Linked DNA regions of Homo sapiens. The protein of the gene in region 1 interacts with the protein of each later gene in a biochemical or structural test. Each region holds a gene or a part of one and is shown in the gene's direction. Other genes may lie near its edges.

Region 1 (3,500 bases):
TGTGCTCCCTCCTGGCCCCACCTGGCTCTGTGTCGGGACTGTGGCTAGGGCTCCCTCTGCTGGACACTGCAGAGATTGTACACGGGCTGTCCCTGGGGAGGGGCACGAGAAGGAAGGGGGAACGGGCTCTAGCAGAGCCGCCCAGTGCTTGAAGTCAGATCCATCACACGAGTTCTCCCATCCCACCCTCAAAGCCGGCCCAGGGTTACAGCAAGAAGAATTAGAGGGTCCATGTTACTAAAATCACTTGAAGTTAATATAGGCACAATTAGTCCAAAACATGCCTTCTACACACAGACCACACAGGCAAAGCTCCCACCCAGGCAAAGCTCCCACCCAGTTCCCAAGAAGATCCCCAGAGTACACAGACTACAAGACTGCCTCTGCCTCTCTGGGACATCATTTCCCCTTACCCCTCCCCTCACTCAGCGAGTGATGCTTTTTTTGTTTTGAGACGGAGTCTAGCTCTGTCACCCAGGCTGGAGTGCAGTGGCACCATCTCGGCTCACTGAAACCTCCGCCTCCCAGGTTCAAGCGATTCTTCTGCCTCAGCCTTCCGAGTAGCTGGGATTACAGGCACCCGCCATCATGACTGGCTAATTTTTGTTTTTTTGTAGAGACGGGGGTTTCACCATGTTGGCCAGGCTGGTCTTCAACTGACCTCAGGTGATCCTCCCGCCTCAGCCTCTCAAAGCGTTGGAATTACAGGCGTGAGCCACTGTGCCCGGCTCAGTGATGCTCTTTTCAACTCGAATTCCGTGGCAGATGTCTTAGAGGGGTGGGGGATACCAGGGATGTTCTGCCCAGGATTCTGTGCCTGAGACTGCTGTCTGACAGTCTCTATTTCCTCCACCTTTATACCTACCTTCCCTTTCTGCAGTGTCCCCACACCCTCCTCTGAGACGCCATGTTCAACTCGATGACCCCACCACCAATCAGTAGCTATGGCGAGCCCTGCTGTCTCCGGCCCCTCCCCAGTCAGGGGGCCCCCAGTGTGGGGACAGAAGGTCAGTGTATATACCAATCCCTGGGCCTTGAGGATTTGGCAGATCTCCCACTTGGGCCCACCCCCACCCCATGCCAGTTTCCTATCTACAGGAGGATTTGAGGCCCCATGTCATATGGACCTGGAATCTGGGATCAGGTCATGTCTGGGGTTTTAAGGTGAGGTTTATGTATCCTCCATTCCCATTCCAGCTGTCTCTTTTTTCTAGGACTGTCTGGCCCGCCCTTCTGCCACCAAGCTAACCTCATGTCCGGCCCCCACAGTTATGGGCCAGCCAGAGAGACCAACAGCTGCACCGAGGGTGAGGGCTCAGGCAACACCTCTTCCCTTTCTGCCCCTCTCTGACTTGTTCTGAAAGAGAAAGTGGGAGGGCAGGGGATCTCACTTGGAGGAGGAGATGCTTGGAGATGTGAGGCGTCAGAGCACCATCAAGAAGTCACAGATGGGGCCGGGCGCGGTGGCTCACGCCTGTAATCCCAGCACTTTGTGGGGAAGCCGTGGCAGGAAGATCGCTTGAGGTCGGGAATTCAAGACCAGCCAGGCCAACATGGTGAAACCCTGTCTCTACTAACAATACAAAAATTAGCCGGGCGTGGTGGCTTGCACCTGTAGTGCCGATTACAGGGGAGGCTGAGGCAGGAGAATCACTTGAACCTGGGAACGCAGAGGTTGCAGTGAGGCAAGATGGTGCCACGCACTCCAGCCTGGGTTACAGAGCATGACTCTGTGTCTCTCAAAAAAAAAAAAAAAAAGTCACAGATAGCATCAATAGGGCAAAGCAGAATCAAGTATCATTGGTTTTGCCAAGTCAGGACCCATAGGTTAGGTGCATGGAGAGACATGCCCCTTTACCATATCCGTCTCCGCTGTCTCCTGCCCCAGGCCCACTCTTTTCTTCTCCCCGGAGTGCAGTCAAGTTGACCAAGAAGCGGGCACTGTCCATCTCACCTCTGTCGGATGCCAGCCTGGACCTGCAGACGGTTATCCGCACCTCACCCAGCTCCCTCGTAGCTTTCATCAACTCGCGATGCACATCTCCAGGAGGCTCCTACGGTCATCTCTCCATTGGCACCATGAGGTGCAGTCAGCCCCGGGCCAAGAGGCCCCTAAAGCCCCTACCCAAGTCCATTAAAAGTCTCAAGCCCTCAAACTACCTAACCCTATTTGAATCCTTGTCATTTCAAAGACAACTCTCCTCAGTACTTCCCTGGGACTGCCTCAACCACTACAAATCCCAAGTCTTCCAGAAATCCTCCAAATAGCCCAATCCTTCCTGAGACTTCCTAATTGTCTTAAGTAACTGCCTCCTCTCCTCCTCAGCCCATCTCTGGGATTCCCAGCCCAGATGAATCACCAAAAAGGGCCCTCGCCTTCCTTTGGGGTCCAGCCTTGTGGTCCCCATGACTCTGCCCGGGGTGGGATGATCCCACATCCTCAGTCCCGGGGACCCTTCCCAACTTGCCAGGTGAGAGTCCCCATATTGCTACCTGATTTCCCTCAGCTCAGGGTGGGTGGGTGGTGGATTTTGTAGGGGAAAGGTGAAGGAAGGACAAGGGATATAAGTTTTCAGTACTAGAAAAGTAAAGAGGTGTGGGTGCTGGGGTTCACTCCTTGCAGTTGAGTCAGACGCTTCCAAATGGGATCCCACCTTTTGCCCATCCCATTCACCAGTGTAGTCTGAGGAGGAAGTCCCTTCCAAACCCAGGAGGTTCCAGCTGCTTGGGTGGGGGCACTTAGGGCAGGAAGACCTGGCTTGGTTTCCTCTTCCTTCTGCTTACTTCCACCCTCATCACCGTCACCTCTTCCCCTGGGGAAGCTGAAGTCTGAGCTGGACATGCTGGTTGGCAAGTGCCGGGAGGAACCCTTGGAAGGTGATATGTCCAGCCCCAACTCCACAGGCATACAGGTAAGGGGATGGGCAGGAGCTTTACCTCTGGGACCTGAGCAAAACTAAAGCTGTCACCCAAGTGACCCTGAGATTGCCTCTCTTGCCCTAGGATCCCCTGTTGGGGATGCTGGATGGGCGGGAGGACCTCGAGAGAGAGGAGAAGCGTGAGCCTGAATCTGTGTATGAAACTGACTGCCGTTGGGATGGCTGCAGCCAGGAATTTGACTCCCAAGAGCAGCTGGTGCACGTGAGCCCCAGGGGGTAACAGGAATGGCTAGCCAGAACCTTTAGGAGATTCTGAGTGGGACATGGTGGAATCCGGCTGAGGGCAGGAGGTCAGAGGAGACTGAGGTTGAATGCTCAGTTGGGTAGGCAGAAGCTCAGAAGTTGTAGCTTTGCCTTAGGGAGCTGGAAGACCTGAGATGTGAGATATGATATTGCTCCTGCCTCTTCCTCCTTGAGGTGGAGTCGTGGAAGAGGAACAGGGGGTGGAGGGAAGGTCTGTTCTGGACCTCAGGGTCATGGGAGAGCCTTGGAGAGCCTTTGTATCTTCTCCCTCAGCACATCAACAGCGAGCACATCCACGGGGAGCGGAAGGAGTTCGTG
Region 2 (3,500 bases), on another chromosome or scaffold:
TCACTAGGAGTAGATTCCATCTCAAGAAGCCACTTTCTGTCCAGGCGTAATGGGGTCACGCTTATAATCCCAGCAGTTTGGGAGGCTGAGGCAGGAGGATTGCTTGCGCCAAGGAATTCAAGAACAGCGTGGGCAACATGGCAAAATCCCATTAAAAAAATATAGAGGTTAGCCGGTTGTGGTGATTTGGGAAGCTGAAGCAGGGAGAGTGCTTGAGCCGGGGAGGGGAGGTCAGGGCTGCAGTGAGCTGTGGCAGTGCAGACCAGCCTGGGCAACAGAGCAAGACCCTGTCTTAAAAAAAAAAAAAGGCCACTTTGTTTCCTCATCCATAAGAAGCAACTTTTCATCTGTTCAAGTTTTAGCTCTGCTTCTAATTGTAGTTCTCTTGCTCTTTCCGTCACATCTACAGTTACTTCCTCCACTGAAGTCTTAAACCCCTCAAAGTCATCCATGAGGGCTGGAATCAGCTTCTTCCAAATTCCTGTTAATGTTGATATTTTGACCTCCTCCCATGAATCATCAGTGTTCTTAATGGCATCTAGAATGATGAATCCTTTCCAGAAGGTTTTCAATTTACTTTGCTCAGATCTGTCAGAAGAATCTGATCACTGTCTATGGTAGTTATAGCCTTACAAAATGTATTTCGTTTGTTTTTCTTTTTTTAGTTTCACAGTGCGTATAAAGTTATGTTTACAATATACTGTAGTCTGTTAAGTGTGCAATGACATTCTAAAAAAGCAATATATATATATATATATATATCAATTAAAAATTATTTGTTGGCCGGGCACGGTGGCTCACGCCTGTAATCCCAGCACTTTGGGAGGCCGAGGCGGGCAGATCACGAGGTCAGGAGATCAAGACCATCCTGGCTAACAGGATGAAACCCCGTCTTTACTAAAAATACAAAACAAACAAACAAACAAAAAAAACCACTAGCCGGGCATGGTGGCGGGTGCCTGTAGTCCCAGCTACTCGGGAGGCTGAGGCAGGAGAATGGCGTGAACCCGGGAGGTGGAGCTTGCGGTGAGCAGAGATGGCGCCACTGCACTCCAGTCTGGGTGACAGAGCGAGACTCCATCTCAAAAAAAAAAAAAAAAATTATTTGTTGCCAAAAAAATGCTAGAAGAACATCTGAGCCTGGCTCAGGCTAGCCTAATTTTTTTATTTTTATTTCTATTTTTAGAGTTAGCATCTCAATGTGTTGCTCAGGCTGGTTGCAAACTCTTTGCCTCAGATGGTCCTCCCACTTTGGCCTCCCAAAATGTTGAGATTACAGGCATGAGCCACTGTCCTGGCTGTATTTCTTAAATTAGGAAATGCATCCAAGTTGGAAAAGTCAAAATACCCTATTCCCTGATGACATGATCTCTGTCATATTTAGAAAAACCTAAGGATGCCACCAAAAACCTCTTGAATTTGACAAATAATCCAGTAAAGTGTCAATACAAAATCAGTGTACAAAAATGAGGAGCATTTCTATACACCAATGACGATCCAACTGAAAACTAAATCAAGAAAGCAATCTTCAAAAAAAGAAAAAATCCACCTAGAAATGTATTTAACCAAGGAGGTAACAGATCTCTATAAGGAGAACTACAAAGTCCTGATGTAAGAAATTCTAGATGACACAGACAAACGGAAAAACATCCCATACTCGTTGATTGGAAGAATCAGTTTTGTCAAAGTGACCATACAACCTGATATGGGTTGTTTATTTGTCTCCTCCAAGTCTCATGTTGAAATGCAATCCCCAGTGTTGGAAGTGGGGCCTGGTGGGAGGTGACTGGATCATGGGGGTGGGTGCCTCATGAATGGCTTAGCAGCGTCCCCTTGATGATGAGCAAGTTCATGTGAGATCTGGTTGTTTAAAAATGTGTGGCATCTCTCCACTCTCTCACTTGCTCCTGCTCTTGCCAAGTGAGGTCCTTGCTCCCACTTTGCCTTATGTCATGAGACCTCACCAGAGGCCAAGCAGGTGCCAGCACCATGCTTCCAGTCCAGCTTGCTGAACCGTGAGCCAATTAAACCTCTCTTCTTTATAAATTACCAAGCCTGAGGTTTTTCTTAAGAGCAATGCAAGAATGGCCTAATACACTACTCAAAGCAATCTGCAGATTGAAGGCAACCCCTATCAATATACCGACATCTGCTGGGTAGAGTGGCTCATGCCTGTAATCCCAGCACTTGGGGAGGCCAAGGCAGGCGGATCACCTGAGGTCAGGAGTTTAAGACCAGCCTGACCAACATGGTGAAACCCTGTCTCTACTAAAAATACAAAAATTAGTGGGACGAGGTGCCAGTAGTCCCAGATACTTGGGAGGCTGAGGCAGGAGAACTGCTTGAACCCAAGAGATGGAGGCTGCAGTAAGCCAAGATCGTGCTGCTGCACTTCATCCTGGGCAATAGAGTGAGTCAATTTGTAAGAAAACACATTATTATCTGTGAAGCACAATGAAAAGTGAAATAAAACAAGGTATACCTCTACTGAAAGAAGAAAACTATCAAACTAGAATTCTAGATCCTGGAACTATGTATTTCAAAAATAAAGGAGAAATAAACACTTCCAGATATCTTTTTTTAAAAAACACTATGAAGCAGAATAAAATGAAGCTCAATAAAATGAGATATACTTGTATATTATTTTCAGCTGAACTCTTTGAAACTAAGCTATGGACATTATGACATTTTACCTCTCAATATGTCACATGCATCTCCTAAAGTTAAGGACATTTTCTTACATAGCCAAAATACCATTATTGTTACTTTTCTTAGGTGCGATACTTCTTTCATATACTCTAATATATATCCATATTTACATCTCATTCGTACTGAATTGTCATTTGTGGTTTGTACACCCATCCCCACCAAATCAGGATTTCATCAAAGTTTATTCATTGCATTTAGTTGTTAAGGCTTTTTGATCTCTTATAGTCTACAGCAGTCTCACCTCTTACACCCTTTAAAAATGACAATGATTTTTTTTAAGAGATCAAGACAGTTGTCTTATAAAGTGACTCATATTCTCGATTTGTCAGATTCCACCCCCCTCCCCCCGTCATAGCATTGTTTAGCTTGTTCCTGTATTCCCCCATACCAGTTGTTAAGTGTAAACTAGATTTAAAGGGTCGATTAGTTTTAATTTCAACATTTTGGACAAGAATACCTAATAAGTGATTTAATATATTTTATATGCCTCCCATTAGGAGACGTACACTGTGCAGTCCCATTATTTGTGATACTAAGTTTGATTGCTTGGTTGAGAGGAGTAAGGTGAGGTATATTTTTCTCACTGCAGTCAGCAAGTAATCTGTGGCATGATAAATTAGCACTGTAATGCTAGCCTGTTCTCCAGTGATCTTTTACCTAATAGTTGTGGTATCTTTTGCTGATCCTTGTCAGGCTAACTTTTAAATTTCAGTGTTAATAAATGTTTGTTGGTCTATAGATGGAAACAAATCACAGGAATTAAAAAATATCCAGCTAGGTTAATCAGAATC

The links. Proteins that work in one complex are often made in the same cells at the same time.
Region 2: of the proteins of GLI1 (region 1) and MAP3K2, one has a biochemical effect on the other in vitro, tested with the Homo sapiens proteins (one study listed by BioGRID).

The regions. Positions count from the first base shown.
Region 1 is NC_000012.12:57,462,785-57,466,284, forward strand, and holds part of GLI1 (zinc finger protein GLI1), read left to right. Parts: exon of another isoform or gene 1-188; intron 189-880; 5' UTR 881-907; coding exon 908-1,007; intron 1,008-1,214; coding exon 1,215-1,307; intron 1,308-1,888; coding exon 1,889-2,084; intron 2,085-2,326; coding exon 2,327-2,471; intron 2,472-2,822; coding exon 2,823-2,912; intron 2,913-3,003; coding exon 3,004-3,141; intron 3,142-3,455; coding exon 3,456-3,500. UniProt on the Homo sapiens protein: Acts as a transcriptional activator. Binds to the DNA consensus sequence 5'-GACCACCCA-3'. Regulates the transcription of specific genes during normal development.
Region 2 is NC_000002.12:127,381,476-127,384,975, reverse strand, and holds part of MAP3K2 (mitogen-activated protein kinase kinase kinase 2), read left to right. Parts: intron 1-3,500. UniProt on the Homo sapiens protein: Component of a protein kinase signal transduction cascade. Regulates the JNK and ERK5 pathways by phosphorylating and activating MAP2K5 and MAP2K7. Plays a role in caveolae kiss-and-run dynamics.